2 linked regions of the Homo sapiens genome follow. The protein of the gene in region 1 purifies or fractionates together with the protein of each later gene. This does not show direct contact. Each region holds a gene or a part of one and is shown in the gene's direction. Other genes may lie near its edges.

Region 1 (7,009 bases):
GGCAGGAGAATAGCTTGAACCTGGGAGGCGGAGGTTGCAGTGAGCCAAGATCGCACCATTGCACTCCAGCCTGGGCAACAAGAGCGAAACTCCATCTCAAAAAAAAAAAAAATTATCGAGGACTTAGAAGAGCTTATGTTCATGTGGGTTATATCTATTGTATTATGCCATTCTTGTATTGTTATAATGAAATACCTGAGACTGTGTAATTGATGAAATAAAGAGGTTTAATTGGCTCATGGTTCTGCAGGCTGTACAAGAAGCACGATCCTGGCATCTGCTCAGTGTCTAGGGAGGCCTCAGGAAACTATCTATCTATAAATAGTTATTGTATTAGAAATTTAAAGGATAAAAATTTTTAAATTACTGATTAATTTTAAAAATAATAAACCAAACACATTTAACATAAATTGCATGCTTTTATGAAAAATAACCATATTTTCCAAAATAAAAAAAATTTGATCAGAGGAAAAGGATTGCTTTTGTATTTTTGCAACTCTCTAAATATTTGATTTAATAGAAGATAGCTAGGTTCTCTATGGTTGAAATATATGAAGAAACTCAGGCCTTTGAAAGAAAATTAAATAGTCTTTTTGGATAATTATGGATATTCTTCTTTGATACTATAGTGAAATTCAACAAGTGGTAATTTCTTCTTCTTTTCTTTTCTTTTTTTTTTTTTTTTTTTTTTGAGAGAAGGTCTGCCTTTATTGCCCAGGCTGGGTGCAGTATGGCGTGATCTTGGCTCACTGCAACATCTGCCTCCCAGGTTCAAGTGATTCTCCCACCTCAGCCTCCCAAGAAGCTGTGACTACCAGCACACACCACCATGCCTGGCTAAATTTTGTATTTTTTGTAGAGATGGGGTTTTGCTATATTGTCCAGGCTGATCTCAAATTCCTACACTCAAGAGATCTGCCCACCTCAGCCTCCCAAAGTGCTGGGAGGCATGAGCCACCAAGTCTGTCAATTGTTCTTTCAAGTAAAAATGGCCTTCCATTGTAATGGCCAGATGGGTTCTTCTTGGCTACTGCACAGACAAAATTCACCGAGACCAAGGTATTGCAGTAGAGAAAGTGTTTAATTGACCCAAGGCCAGTCACATAGGAGAACTGGAGTTATCACTCAAATCAGTCTCCCCCTGGGTTGGAGGTTGGGGTTTTTATGGACAATTTGGTGAGCAGGGGACTAGAGAATGGGTTCTGCTGATGGGTTGGGGATGGAATCATAGGGGTGTGGAAAACAGTCCTTGAGTGCTGAGCCTGCCTCTGGGTGGGGCCATAGGACCAGTTCTGAGTCATGAGTCACGAGTCCAGGTGGGGTCAGTCTGAAAAATATCTCAAAAAGCAATCTAAAGTTGTACAATACTGATGTTATTTATAGGAGCAACTGGGGAAGTCACAAATCTTGTGACCTCTGGCCACATGACCCCTGAGCAGTAAGGGAGTATATTAATAGAAATATGCCTACACTTTAGCAAAGTTCACACCCCTCCCATAATCCTATTCTTGCTGCTTTTCATTAGTCTTCCAAAGGTGGTTTTTCATCCCTAAGCAAGAGCAGGGGTAGTTTTAGGGAGGAACTTAGCTTTCAAGTTAAACCATAAACTAACTTCCTCCCCAAATTAAGTTGGCCTATGCCCAGGAATGACCAGGAACACCTTGGAGGTCAGAAGCAAGATTAAATCAATGAGGTCAGATTCCTCTTACTATCATGTTTTGCAAAGGCAGTTTCACCATGAAAAATGCAGGTAGTTCAGCCTGTAAGTCAACCACACAAGTGCTTTTCTTCAAGACAGCCATCCCACTTTGGCATGCAGAAGTGCATGTGTACTTCCCATTTCTTCACACAGAGTATTAGAAAGACTTGTATTCAAGGGCCAAAATTTAATAAAATTAATGCTTCCGCTTCATCCAGGATATTCCTAAATCAATAGCCTTAAAAACTGGGAATGTATGGCAGTGAAGAATACAGCGATCCAATGACCACCCGGACAGGTTGGTGGCACTGTCTTGATCCCTGCTAAGGCATCAATAGTGTCCGTATTCCTTTGCACCATCAGTACAAAAACAAACTCAGTCAAAAAGACAGAGGAGGCCAGGCATGGTGGCTCACTCCTGTAATCCCAGAACTTTTGGGAGGCTGAGGTGGGCAGATCGCTTGAGCTCAGGAGTTCCAGAGGAGCCTGGGCAACATAGTGAGACCCCATGTCTACCAAAAATACAAAAATTAGCTGGGTGTGGTGGCGCACGCGCCTGTAGTCACAGCTGCTTCGGAAACTGAGATGGTACACTCGCTTGAGCCCAGGAGTTTGAGGCCGCAGTGAGCTATGATCAGGCCACTGCACTCCTGCACTCCAGCCTCAGCGACAGAGGGAGACCCTGTGTCAAAAACAAAAACAAAACAAAACAAAAAGCAGGGGGGGCCTGACACGGTGGCTCAGGCCTGTAATCCTAGCACTTTGGGAGGCTGAGGTGGGTGGATTGCCTGAGCTCAGGAGTTCAAGACCAGCCTGGGCAATGTGGTGACATGGTGAAACCCTGTCTCTACAAAATACAAAAAATTAGCCGGGTGTGGTGGCGGGCTTCTGTAATACCAGCTACTCGGGAAGCTGAGACAGGAGAATCACTTGAACCCGGGAGGTGCAGGTTGCAGTGAGCTGAGATTGTGCCGCCACTGCATTCCAGCCTGGGTGACAGAGCAAGACTCTGTATCCAAAAAAAAAAAGGACCAGACATATTGCATTGTTAACAAACTAGTTGTTAACCTTATGACCTCTGTAAAGGTCTCAGGGATTTCCAGAGGTCTGGGGACCACACTTTGAGAATCACTAGATTAAAAGGGGGAAAACATGGGAGGAAAAAAAGGTCACATAATGGAAACATACTGTTGGATTGAATTTCGTATATAAAAACCCTTTACTGAAATAAAGAGTAGAGACTTCAAGTACCAAGAGAAGCAGATTAGAAGAGGAGGAAGGCTCTAGGGACTGATCAGGTCTGGAGGCAGGGTTTTAAATGGGCCTTGAAGGGTTCGTGCAGTTTGGAAGGAAGGGATGGGAGGGAAAAGCTTGCTGAATCGTATAAATGAACAAGACCCTGATGGTGAGCTCTTGAGGATATGAAAGGCAAAAAGCACTAAGGCCGGGCTTTTGTTCCTCTGTGGCCCTGCATATATGAGGAGGTGATGAGTAATTCTATATTTTTATCAGCTTTACCGTTTAAAACTCCAAGGGAGGAAAACCCTTCAAACTGATAGGCTTGGGGCTTGGTGAAGGTGGGGTATTAGTGAAAAAGATGTGAAGTTTCTTTATCGAAAATACATGTATGTCCAAGAAATTCTCTGTAGATAAAAACTAACAAGAAAAAGAGTTTGTCAGAGAGGAAAAGTAGTTTTGCTAATTTATTTTTGATCATTTGCAAAGCCCATGGAAGTGTGTGGCAAGAGGATTGTGGTGTCTTAGGATATTCACATAGGTCTGAAACAAGGAAAACATACTTCTGTTGAAAGCACCATTCCAACATATTGTTATTAGCAGTCCCTGAACTAACGGGTAGTGGGTGGGTACTGTGTCCATCAGCTCAGCGAACCGCAATTGCCTCATTGACAGCAAGCCCAGCAAGGAATCACTTGGAATATTAATTTCCGTGGCCTTTCGCAATCACACGAAGCTTGGCTCCCTGCGCTTGCCGTAACGCGGCCTGTACCATTGCTTTCCGGGTGGCGGGGGGGATTTGGCAGCAGCGGAAGAAGGAGACCGGAGGGTGTGTGTTGGGCAAAGCCGGAGGCAGAGGAGGACGATTGTTTTACGGATCCCGTGATCGGCCCGTCCTTCTCCCCTTTCCCCCCCTCCCTACCGCCCCTGTCCCGCCGGGGAGCGGCGGCGGCCTTGGACTTTGCTGTCTTTCCTCGCGGAGACAGGTGAGTGTCGGCGCGCGGGCTCCCCGGGCTTCGCTCCCCACCCCCCGCGTCTCCGGGGCCGGTGGCGGCGGCCGGCCGGGGAGGCGGCCTCGGCGCACAGTAATGGCAGCGCTGTGAGCAGGGGAACGCGAGCTGACAGCCGCCGCCGCCGCCGCCTCCGCCCACCTTCCTCGCCGGGGCTTCGTCTTTCACTCCTTCGGGCTGCCTCCCCCTCCCCTTGTCCCCTGCCCCTTGCCCTGCTTCTGCAGAAGGTAACCCCGCTGAGGGTCGGGGAGCCGGGCTGCAGGCGCCGGGAAACTTCCCTTCCCGGTTAATGGGTGGCGGGGCTGGGGCGGAGGAGAGGAGTTGGGGGCGACGAGGTGTGGGGAGAGGGATGAAAGGGGGAGGCCCGGGAAGATGGTATCCTGTAAGTGACCTCGGCTCCCCAGAGCGCTGACCCGTAAGCCCTGCCACCCCCTGGACTGGATCCCGGGCCTCCCCAACCCGATCTTGGCCGCCTCTCCCGCGGCCCCATTTTCCTTCGAAGGAGGGAAGGTGAGAGTGCGTGTATTCTTCTACATATTTACGTGCTCACACGAATACACAACTCTGTGTGTTTGTGTGTGTGTGTGGGGGGGGGCATCTCATGCATCCTTACCCCGAGTGTTTTCACTTTTGTTTCCGCAGACTGCAAAGATTGATAGCTTTGGGGAGGAGTATCCTACGTGCATGCTAGACTTCTTGTCTCAACCCTTAGGGTCTGGTGAAATAAGATCCTCACACGCTTTCTAGCACTTGCTTACCCTCTAGAGAGTCTGGACCATTCCCTACCATTACGTGCATGCAAATAAAACATCTGTGAATTGCAGACTGTTATTAATGTTAAGTCCACATCTTTGCCCCATGGATTAATATTAACAGTTGAAGGCCAGTACCCTGGGCGTTTAAATTTTGAAGATAAGATGCAAAATATTAACGTTCGCTATAGATTGTGACTGTTCAACATAAACGTCTTTGAACTAGACCTGGCCAAGCCTACCTTCGTAGTAAAGTATCGGAAATAATCACTTTGATCTGATTGACAACTGACTACATAATAATCGCTTAAAAACATTCAAAACACTGTTGCCTACCCTTTAGAATCTTACATTCCTTTTCAAGACAGACACATGAACAAATGAGCTATACTTTGCTTCTTTTGCCCTTATACAGTATCTGGAAGATCCTTCCAAAAGAGTCGCGTGAGATAAGAGAAGTACACAGTTTTTTTGTTTTGAGATGGAGTTTTGCTCTTGTCACCCAGGCTGGAGTGCAGTGGTGCGATCTCGGCTCACTGCAACCTCCGCCTCCCGGGTTCAAGCAATTCTTCTGCCTTAGCCTTCCATGTAGCTGGGATTACTGGCATGCGCCACCATGCCCGGCTAATTTTGTATTTTTAGTGGAGATGGGGTTTCACCATGTTGGCCAGGCTGGTCTTGAACTCCTGACCTCAGGTGATTCGCCTGCTTAGGCCTCCCAAAGTGCTGGGATTACAGGCCTGAGCTACTGCGCCCAGCCCACAGTGTTTTGAATTACTTGTTTTTTTCAATTGCTGTTTATGAGTTGGGGGAACATTTCTACAATGTGCATGCACATAGCGTGGGAAAAATTCCTTTTCAATTGCTTTTTGAGTATTTGGATGTTCTCCTGCATCTGAAATACTCTTCATTCTCCATCCTTGCTGGTGGCTTTCAGTGTTCTATAAATGTGAAGATTATCCATGTCTTTTACCCTCACCAGTTTGTCACTAGATTAAACGTTATGGACCTTCTTTAAAGTCATTTTTGCGTTGTCTGGCAGTTGACAGATATTTATTAAGCACCTGGTTTATTTGTCAAGCAGGGCTGCAGGCATTAAGGTTACAAGGGTAAACAAGACACATTACATTTCTTTTTTTTTTTTTTTTTTTTTTGAGGCGGAGTCTCGCTCTGTCACCAGGCTGAAGTGCGGTGGCACGATCTGGGCTCACTGCAACCTCCCAGTTCAAGCAATTCTCCTGCCTCAGCCTCCTGAGTAGCTGGCACTACAGGCGCACGTCACCACGCCCAGCTAATTTTTGTATTTTTAGTAGAGACTGGGTTTCAACATGTTGGCCAGGGTGGTCTTGATCTCTTGACCTCATGATCCGCCCTCCTCAGCCTCCCAGAGTGCTGGGATTATAGGCGTGAGCCACCACACCTGTCCAACCCATTAAATTTCTATCCTCTTGGAGTGTCACTTCTGGCTTGGGATGGAGAGACAGACAGTATATAAGAAATAATCTCAGAGAATAAGTGCTGTGTGGGAAATAAGGTAAGGAGTTGTGGTAGTGATTGGGAGATTACTTCAGATACTGTAACCAGAAAAGAACTTCCTGAGGTGAAGTTTGAAATTCTGAGGGAACAGTTTTCCTATTTTAGGGAGGAACAAATGGAAAAACCCTGAGGTGCTATCAAACTTGGATTGAACAAACTGAAATTGGCTTAAGGTGGACCCTAGTAAGAGATTAAAGGTGGGTCCTAGCCAGGGGCTGGATCATGTTGGCTTTGTTCTTAGATACATTAAAAGGCTTTTGGAACTCTTCTAAACTGAGAGGTCTGATTGAGAATCAGACTGTTGATTGGAGAAGAGAGACACAAGGAGACCAGTGAGAAGAGCAGTGGCTGTGGAGGGTTAAGGTACAAGTGAAAACGTTTTGAGATTTATTTTGGAGTTGAAGATACTTATTGAAATTGTCATGTTTTGGATGAGCATGCAGTTGGGATGGGTCAATTCTGGGTTTTTGGCTTCTGCTGGAGGATGATGATGCTGTGTACTGAGATGAAGAAGAGGTTGGGGGAAGCAGGCTGTTGTATGGGATGGGGTTGGATTGGACATGTTAAGTTGGATTTCGTTGTTCAAGTGGAGGTGAGAAGTAGGTGATTGGAAATAAGTGTGGAACTTAGAGGTTAAGGAGTGATTCAGCCATCCAACGAGGGCTTCTCAAGCACCAGCTTTAAACCAGATGTGTGGATATAGTGGTTAAAAAATTTCTGGCTTCATGGAACTTAAGTTCTAGTGAAGAGAGGAAAATGGATATGGAGAGTCATCA
Region 2 (6,931 bases), on another chromosome or scaffold:
TCTGATACTGCACAGAGGTTTGTGAACTGGAAGTAGTAAATGACAAAGCTCTTAGCAGAGATACCCCTGTGAGAGAACAAATTGGGTTCCTCACGCTAAGGGCAGGCTCTGGCCTCCTACACCTCATCTTTCTTCTTGGTGGCAGGACAATCCATGGACTGATCTATAATGCCCTGAAGTTGTTTATGGAAATGAATCAGAAGCTGTTTGATGACTGCACACAACAATACAAGGCAGAGAAGCAGAAGTGAGTATCTCTCTCCCCGGGAGACTTTCATCTTCTACCACCAGCTCACTGTGTTTCTCTCAAGCCCAACCCCAATCCTACTTTTGCTCCTCAGGGGCCGGTTCCGAATGAAGGAAAGGGAAGAGATGTGGCAAAAAATCGAGGAGCTGGCCCGGCTTAATCCCCAGGTGAGGTTTTCCTGCCACTGTTGTGAACTGAGGGGCCAGCCCATCTTGAGCTGGGGGAGAGTTTGTTGGGGGAGGAATATGGGGCACACAGGCCCCCAAGCCTCTGAAGTGGCTCTTAACGCTTGTCCATGTCTCCTCACTCAGTATCCCATGTTCCGAGCCCCTCCACCACTGCCCCCTGTGTACTCGATGGAGACAGAGACCCCCACAGCTGAGGACATCCAGCTTCTGAAGAGGACTGTGGAGACTGAGGCTGTTCAGGTGGGAGGGCAATGTAGGGGGATGGAGCAGAAATAATAGCTCTGGAAGGGAGAGGAGACAGAAACAGCAGAGCCAAAGAATAAGGGGACGGAACAATAGAATTCACTGGGAATTGGTCACCATTCCTCACCTTGTCCCTATTCACACACAGATGCTAAAAGACATCAAGAAGGAGAAAGTGCTGCTGCGGAGGAAGTCGGAGCTGCCCCAGGACGTGTACACCATCAAGGCACTGGAGGCGCACAAGCGGGCGGAAGAGTTCCTAACTGCCAGCCAGGAGGCTCTCTGACCCCTCACGTTCCTACCACAGGGCCACAGCCCACACAGCCCTGGGACACTGCCCTGGCCCTCCATACTCTGCTCCCTACTGGCTGTCTTGGGGGAAGGCAGCGCCTCTCTAGCTACTCAAGGGAGGGGGATGTGGGCACTTGAAGCAGGGACACCCACAGAATGGTCCCTCTTCTCCCCAAAAGGTGTTCATGCCTCCCTGTGGCTAGTACAGGCTGAGCACTAAGATGCTTAGTGCTCAGACAACCTGGGGATGCCTGTCCCCTACCTGCTCCTCACCCACAGCTACCTGAGGCTGCTCTGAGAAGTACACACAGGAATACATACGCTCCTCTATTCTTCCCTTCATCCTCATTTGAACGCCAGGTATCTCCCCTCCTCTCTCTCCCCTGCAGAGGCATGTAGGGAACAGCAGGAGATTATTCTCACCAAAGTTATGTCAAGCCCCATTGGTCCCAGAGTAGCTGAAGGGAAGCCAACCCCCCTGCAGCACAAATAGGCCCCCCAGTCCCAGCCGTGTGCTGGCAGATAGGGTTGTATTATTTCTTCTTACCCCATGCCTGACCAAGGGAGGTCAAAAGGAGAAAAGTATAGGCTGTGGACAATAACTGATGAATATAGGGCCCAGATGGACCAAGTGGGGCCGGGGAGGGATGAATAAACACCCTACCCCGTGCCCTGTCTTTGGTGAGCAGCAGCCCTGGGGTCACAGACATGGAAGGGACCACCCTGGGGCTGACTGCTTTTCTGTGCTGTTGGTTCCCAAAACTAGAAAGAAGGAAGCAGGGAGCGGTGCCCCAAGCATGGCTCCTGCCAACACCTATTTATTTCCTTGTTTGTGCTATGCTGGGCAGGCCTTCTCTTGTCCCTTATAGGTACCTTGGAGGGGCCAGGGGCTGAGGAAGGCCGGACCCAGGTTCCAGGGGCGCAGGCAGTGCGGCTTTTGGCTGTGTACATAGGGTGCTTTATTCTCCACAGAGTGATACATGCTAAGGTGGGTTGGGCTTGGACCGATGTCCCCATATGTACAGAACTGAATAAAGTGGGTCTCTGAGAAGTCTGATGTGCCTTGATGTGGAAAGGGAGACGGGGAAGATGGAAATGGACATTACAACCAGGGATGTGTTCAGTCCTGTGCTGGTTCTGGCCTGGAATGTAGGAATATAAGGCAGCTCTCACTGTGGTCACTTCCAGGCAGGGGATGCCTGCCGGGCTTGGAGGGCTTTCTGTACCACATCTTCCCACTGGGCATCCGATATCTCCCGAGCCCAGGCAGGAACCCCTGGCGCAGGCAGGCTTACTCCAGCCATTGTCCTTTTCACCAGCTCTACATGTTCTGAAATCAGAGCCAGAGGCCATTCAGGCATAGAAATAATGGGACCAGCTCCCCTCCCCAATCCCCGAATCAACCCAGAGCCCTTGGGCTGCTAGGGTCACCAAATCCACCTTGTTACTTTAAGGCAAGCCTGCCCATCCCCAAAGCTAGCAAAAGAGCATTTCACTTGGACTCTGAAGTCTACAAAATCTTAGTTTACAAACTATCTTTTTAGGATAGGGTCTTCCTCTGAAACTTCCTTCTACTGACTCATGCCAGTTCATTTCCTTAGTAATTATTCCAGAATGAAAGAATGATCTTTTACCTGGGTCCATGGGAATAGAGCTGTGGTTGTTCAACGCTGTAGCTCCCTCCTCATCTTCATCTTCACTCTCTAATGGTGGGTCTGGCAAATGAAGCCCCAGGGCCTGCAGAGCCACAGAAGACCGTTTGGGTCTAGGCTTTCAGGGAGCCCAGCTTCACCTGTTCAGGAACCATCCCTCCTCCACCCTACCTGGATTCGATCCTGGATGTCAGCAACTACATCTCCATCCCCCACTGGTGCCAGTTCCACCTCCTCTTGTTCAGGATCTTGGTTCAGGGGCTGGTAGGAGTAGCCAGCTGGGCCCGACCCCGTTTCCTCCTGCTCTTCCTCAGGCTCCTCACTGCTCCAATCCCCAGTGCCTTCTGAAGGGCCCTGATGTCCCAGTTCCTCAGTCTGATTGGGGAAGATACGCTCAGGGCCCATGGTGTCTCCTCCTAGAACTACTGTTGCCATCCGGGCAGGGGCTGCAAGAACAGGGAGGCGGTAGGACAGGGATCGGATGAAACCAGGCCCATCTTCATCCTCTCATCATCTCCTTGTAGTCTCCTGCGTGCAAAAAACCAGCTCCTCCCCGAGGCTCCTGCATCCTCCACCCCTCCGCCCCAATTCCAGCCTCTCGTTCCTCCCCCTCCTAAGTCGGGGTTCTTATCTTGAACCAGGCCCCACCAACTTGCTCCGCCACTTCCTAGTTAAACGCCCAACCGGAGGCCCTGCCACCTCCTAAAAGACACCCCTTCCAGAACCCCGGCTCCCCGCGCCACGCCTCCCCCGCGACTTGGGAACTCTGGGTCATCAGACTCCCCTAAACAGGTCGGCGTACCCGCCCCCTTCTCCCCTCTCCTAGAGGACCCCCTCTGTACCGCCTGACAGATGCCTTTCAGGCCCCATGGGCTCCCCTCAAATGGCCCCAGCTGCAGCGTCCCCCACCCGCCCCCATCCGAATCCCGGCGCCGGTGTTCCCGCGCGCCTCACCCGCTCAGAGCCCGCGGCCTCCACTTCCGGCGGGGCAGGACGTGCAGAGGTGCCTAGTCCTCCAGCCCCGCCCCATATCCATGATTGACGCTGGCGAGGACGAGGAGTCCGCCCCTTGCCCCGCCTCCGTCATTCCCAGCCCAAAAAACAAAGGACTGCATTACCCAGTGGCCTCCTCGGTCTCGACACATATTTGCACATGCGCAGAATCTCTCCTACGCCCCTGCCCACTCCTCAGCCCTCTCGTCCCTCAGGAAACGTATGGACTACAAGTCCCGAAATGCCTCCGGCACTTAGCTACGACTGCACGTGCGCGCACAGCTGCCCGCCGGAAGAACCGAGCTTGGCTGTGTTTATCTCGTTGGGGACTAAGGCGTCGGTTGGCGCGCAACGGGTTCTAGGCTGCAGGCAGCTCGAGGACCCGCGGCCCCGCCCCGGCTCGGCCTGGCAGGTAGCCTGGGATGGGTAGAAGGGCAAGGGAGAATTAGGGGGCTTAGGACGTGCTGTCTGGAGCTGGAGTGGCGGGGGAGGGGCCTGAGAGTGATGAGGTGGGGGTGGGGAGGGAGCTAGGGGGATGATGGGAAAGGAGAGTGTTAATGGGGAAAGCAGGGCTAGGGGAGGATGGCGAGGAGATGGGTAGGAGAGACCTGGTGTCTGGAGGAAGCAATGAAGGAAATGGGAAGGAAGACTGGGCCATGAAAACAGGGAAGCTGAGCATAATGGAAGGGGAGGGGTGTCTGGCGTGGTGGGCTAGGGGAGGCCGGAATGTCTGGAAGAAGACAGGGATAGAGTCATATGCAGAGAGGGGTATCGTGGTCAGTGCATGCTAATTTTTCTTTCCTTAGTGGAGGTGGGAAAATGGAGGGCTGTTGGGTGGAGCTTGGAATGGTAGGAGAAGGAAAAATGAGAAAACTGCAAAGCTCTCACGAGATCAAGAAGGGCGAGAAATGGGGAATAAAAAATGCAAGAGACCAGGCGGGTAGATACATTAAGGGAATAGAAGAAGTTTGAAAATGCTTGGTGGTGATGGAGGACTGGGGAGACCCAGGGATAAGAGGAGCCCCTGAGCGCCTGGGGGCTTGTTCTCCTTGAATTTGAGTTGTTTATATGGCAGAGAAACTAAAATTTTTTTTCTCCACCTTTGGCTGGAATTGCTTATCTCCTCTCCTGTGCATATTTTACTTTACCTTGACATATCTGAAGGGAAGAATAGAGAATATAAGGGAGGATGGAAGACTTCCATTCTTAAGCCCATCGACCTCCTAACAGTCTCCACAAGCCCAGACCCAAGATATTTTGGAGAGCGGGAGTAATGAAGTGAGAGTAGCTTCCTGCTGGGGCTATTTCAGGATGGGTCCCATGGCTATTTAAAGCTTAGGGTGTGGAGTTGGGGGAGGTTGGGTGGGTGGGACTAGCAAGCCAGCTGAAAGCCATGTCTCTTTCCTGCAAGGGGCCTCCCTTATTTGAGCTGTTTTAGTGCCTGAGGTTTTGCCTGGCCCTTTCCTCTGCCAGGGCTTCTTAAACAGGGAGCAGATGATGATACACCCAAACTCAGGAGATGCTTGCCAGCAAAAGCATTGTCAGTTGCAAGGATTTGCCTGAAAAAACCTCAGATGTACCCAGGTGTACGTGCCACTAGGTTGACAGGTTGTGTTTAAGAGACCATGACCAGCTGGGCATGGTGGCTCACGCCTGTAATCCCAGCACTTCAGGAGACCGAGGACGGTGGATCACCTGAGGTCAGGAGTTTGAGACCAGCCTGGCCAACATAGTGAGACCCCATCTCTACTAAAAATACAAAAATTAGCTGGGCATGGTGGCAGGCGCCTGTAATCCCAGCTACTTGGGAGGCTGAGGCAGGAGAATCGCTTGAACCCGGGAGGGAGGCAGAGTTTGCAGTGAGCTGAGATTGCACCATTGCGCTCCAGCCTGGGGGCAAGAGCGAGACTTCATCTAAAAAAAAAAAAAAAAAAAAAGACCATGACTTCTCATGCTGGATCTTTCTCTTGTCCTGCCCAAGGGCATTTTTTGCCTCCCTTCCCCTTTTTTTTTGTTTTGAGACAGAGTCTCGCTCTGTCGCCAGACTGGAGTGCAGTGGTGTGATCTCGGCTCACTCCAACCTCCGCCACCCGAGTGCAAGCAATTCTCCTGCCTCAGCCTCCTGAGTAGCTGGGACTACAGGTGCGCGCCACCGTGCCCAGCTAATTTTTGTATTTTTAGTAGAGACGGGTTTCACCATGTTGGCCAGGATGGTCTCCGTCTCTTGATCTCGTGATCCACCTGCCTCGGCCTCTCAGGGTGCTGGGATTACAGGTGTGAGCCACTGTGCCCAGCCCCTTCCCCTTTGCATTGCACACTCCCACCTCTATCCGCCTTTCAGGAACCCAAGTTGTGGAAGAGCTTGTTCTCTCTTTTCTACTGGAAATGGCTTGTTCTCTACCACAGTAGCAGGGATGGGGAAGTGGCAGGAGGAGAAAACCCCTCCCTCTATCACCATCCCCCAAGCCTAAGCATACACATACCTTTCTGGCTTAAGTCCTGGCAGCATACCAGGCACAGCTGTCAAAGGAACTCCTTGTGCCTGTGGGGGGCCCTGGGTGACCCCAATGACAACAACTCAGCTTGACAGGAGCTCCCTGTGAGGGGCTAACCAACCGCGGTAACATGGAGGTCCCTGTCCTGGATCAGTCCCGCCCTATCTTGGGTAGGGGGATTGTTCCACTCTAAAAGCCTGAAAGCTTTTCTGCTTTGAGGCACTCATGCCAGCTTTCAATGGACTGTTTGAGGCTGGCTGGGCTATTAATAGCTGTGAGTATTTTGAGATCCCTTTCCCCACCTCAAAGAACACAGATTCTTAGAGAGGTGGCAGTAAGCAGAGCAGAGACAAGAGAATATACCGTTTGGGAAGGGGGCTTCAAGTTTGTGCCAAGCCAGGGACAGAGTGGAGCCTCCACGAGTAGGTTGTGACCATGATATGCAGATTCTGAGCTGGCAATCAGGTGGGGGTGGCCCCACCCTTCACTGTTGGAGAACACTGGGCCCAGGCTGCTCCCTGACCTCGGCAGCTCCCTTGGGGCAGGGCCAGCCACCTGAGCTGAGACTAGTGCCCCTGTGGAGGGGTAGTGTGGGAGGGCCCCCAGGGTGACACTTGGAGGCAAAGGCTGGTTCTGGGCAGAGTCACAGTGAGCTGGGCAGAAGCCTCGCCTGAGGATCCCGTGGCCCCAATTTGTGTGCAGATAGCAGAGGCAGCAGGCCGTGCCGGGGGGGCATGTTGCTGTAACCAGTGGCCCAGGGGATGTTACGGTGGACAGTGCACCTGGAGGGCGGGCCCCGCAGGGTGAACCATGCTGCAGTGG

Evidence for each region. Proteins that work in one complex are often made in the same cells at the same time.
Region 2: the proteins of CUL2 (region 1) and KLHDC3 purify together in Homo sapiens (affinity purification with mass spectrometry; 7 studies listed by BioGRID and IntAct, with this or other methods). This does not show direct contact.

What each region holds. Positions count from the first base shown.
Region 1 is NC_000010.11:35,087,342-35,094,350, reverse strand, and holds the start of CUL2 (cullin-2), read left to right. Parts: upstream 1-4,009; 5' UTR 4,010-4,172; intron 4,173-4,349; exon of another isoform or gene 4,350-4,455; intron 4,456-7,009.
Region 2 is NC_000006.12:43,010,323-43,017,253, forward strand, and holds the start of KLHDC3 (kelch domain-containing protein 3), read left to right. Parts: upstream 1-3,926; 5' UTR 3,927-4,026; intron 4,027-4,175; exon of another isoform or gene 4,176-4,892; intron 4,893-6,097; exon of another isoform or gene 6,098-6,564; intron 6,565-6,811; 5' UTR 6,812-6,870; coding exon 6,871-6,931. Other genes in the region: PPP2R5D (serine/threonine-protein phosphatase 2A 56 kDa regulatory subunit delta isoform), read left to right, coding at 146-247, 342-414, 559-675, 827-964; MEA1 (male-enhanced antigen 1), read right to left, coding at 2,148-2,299, 2,604-2,706, 2,793-3,067, 3,740-3,776. UniProt on the Homo sapiens protein: Substrate-recognition component of a Cul2-RING (CRL2) E3 ubiquitin-protein ligase complex of the DesCEND (destruction via C-end degrons) pathway, which recognizes a C-degron located at the extreme C terminus of target proteins, leading to their ubiquitination and degradation.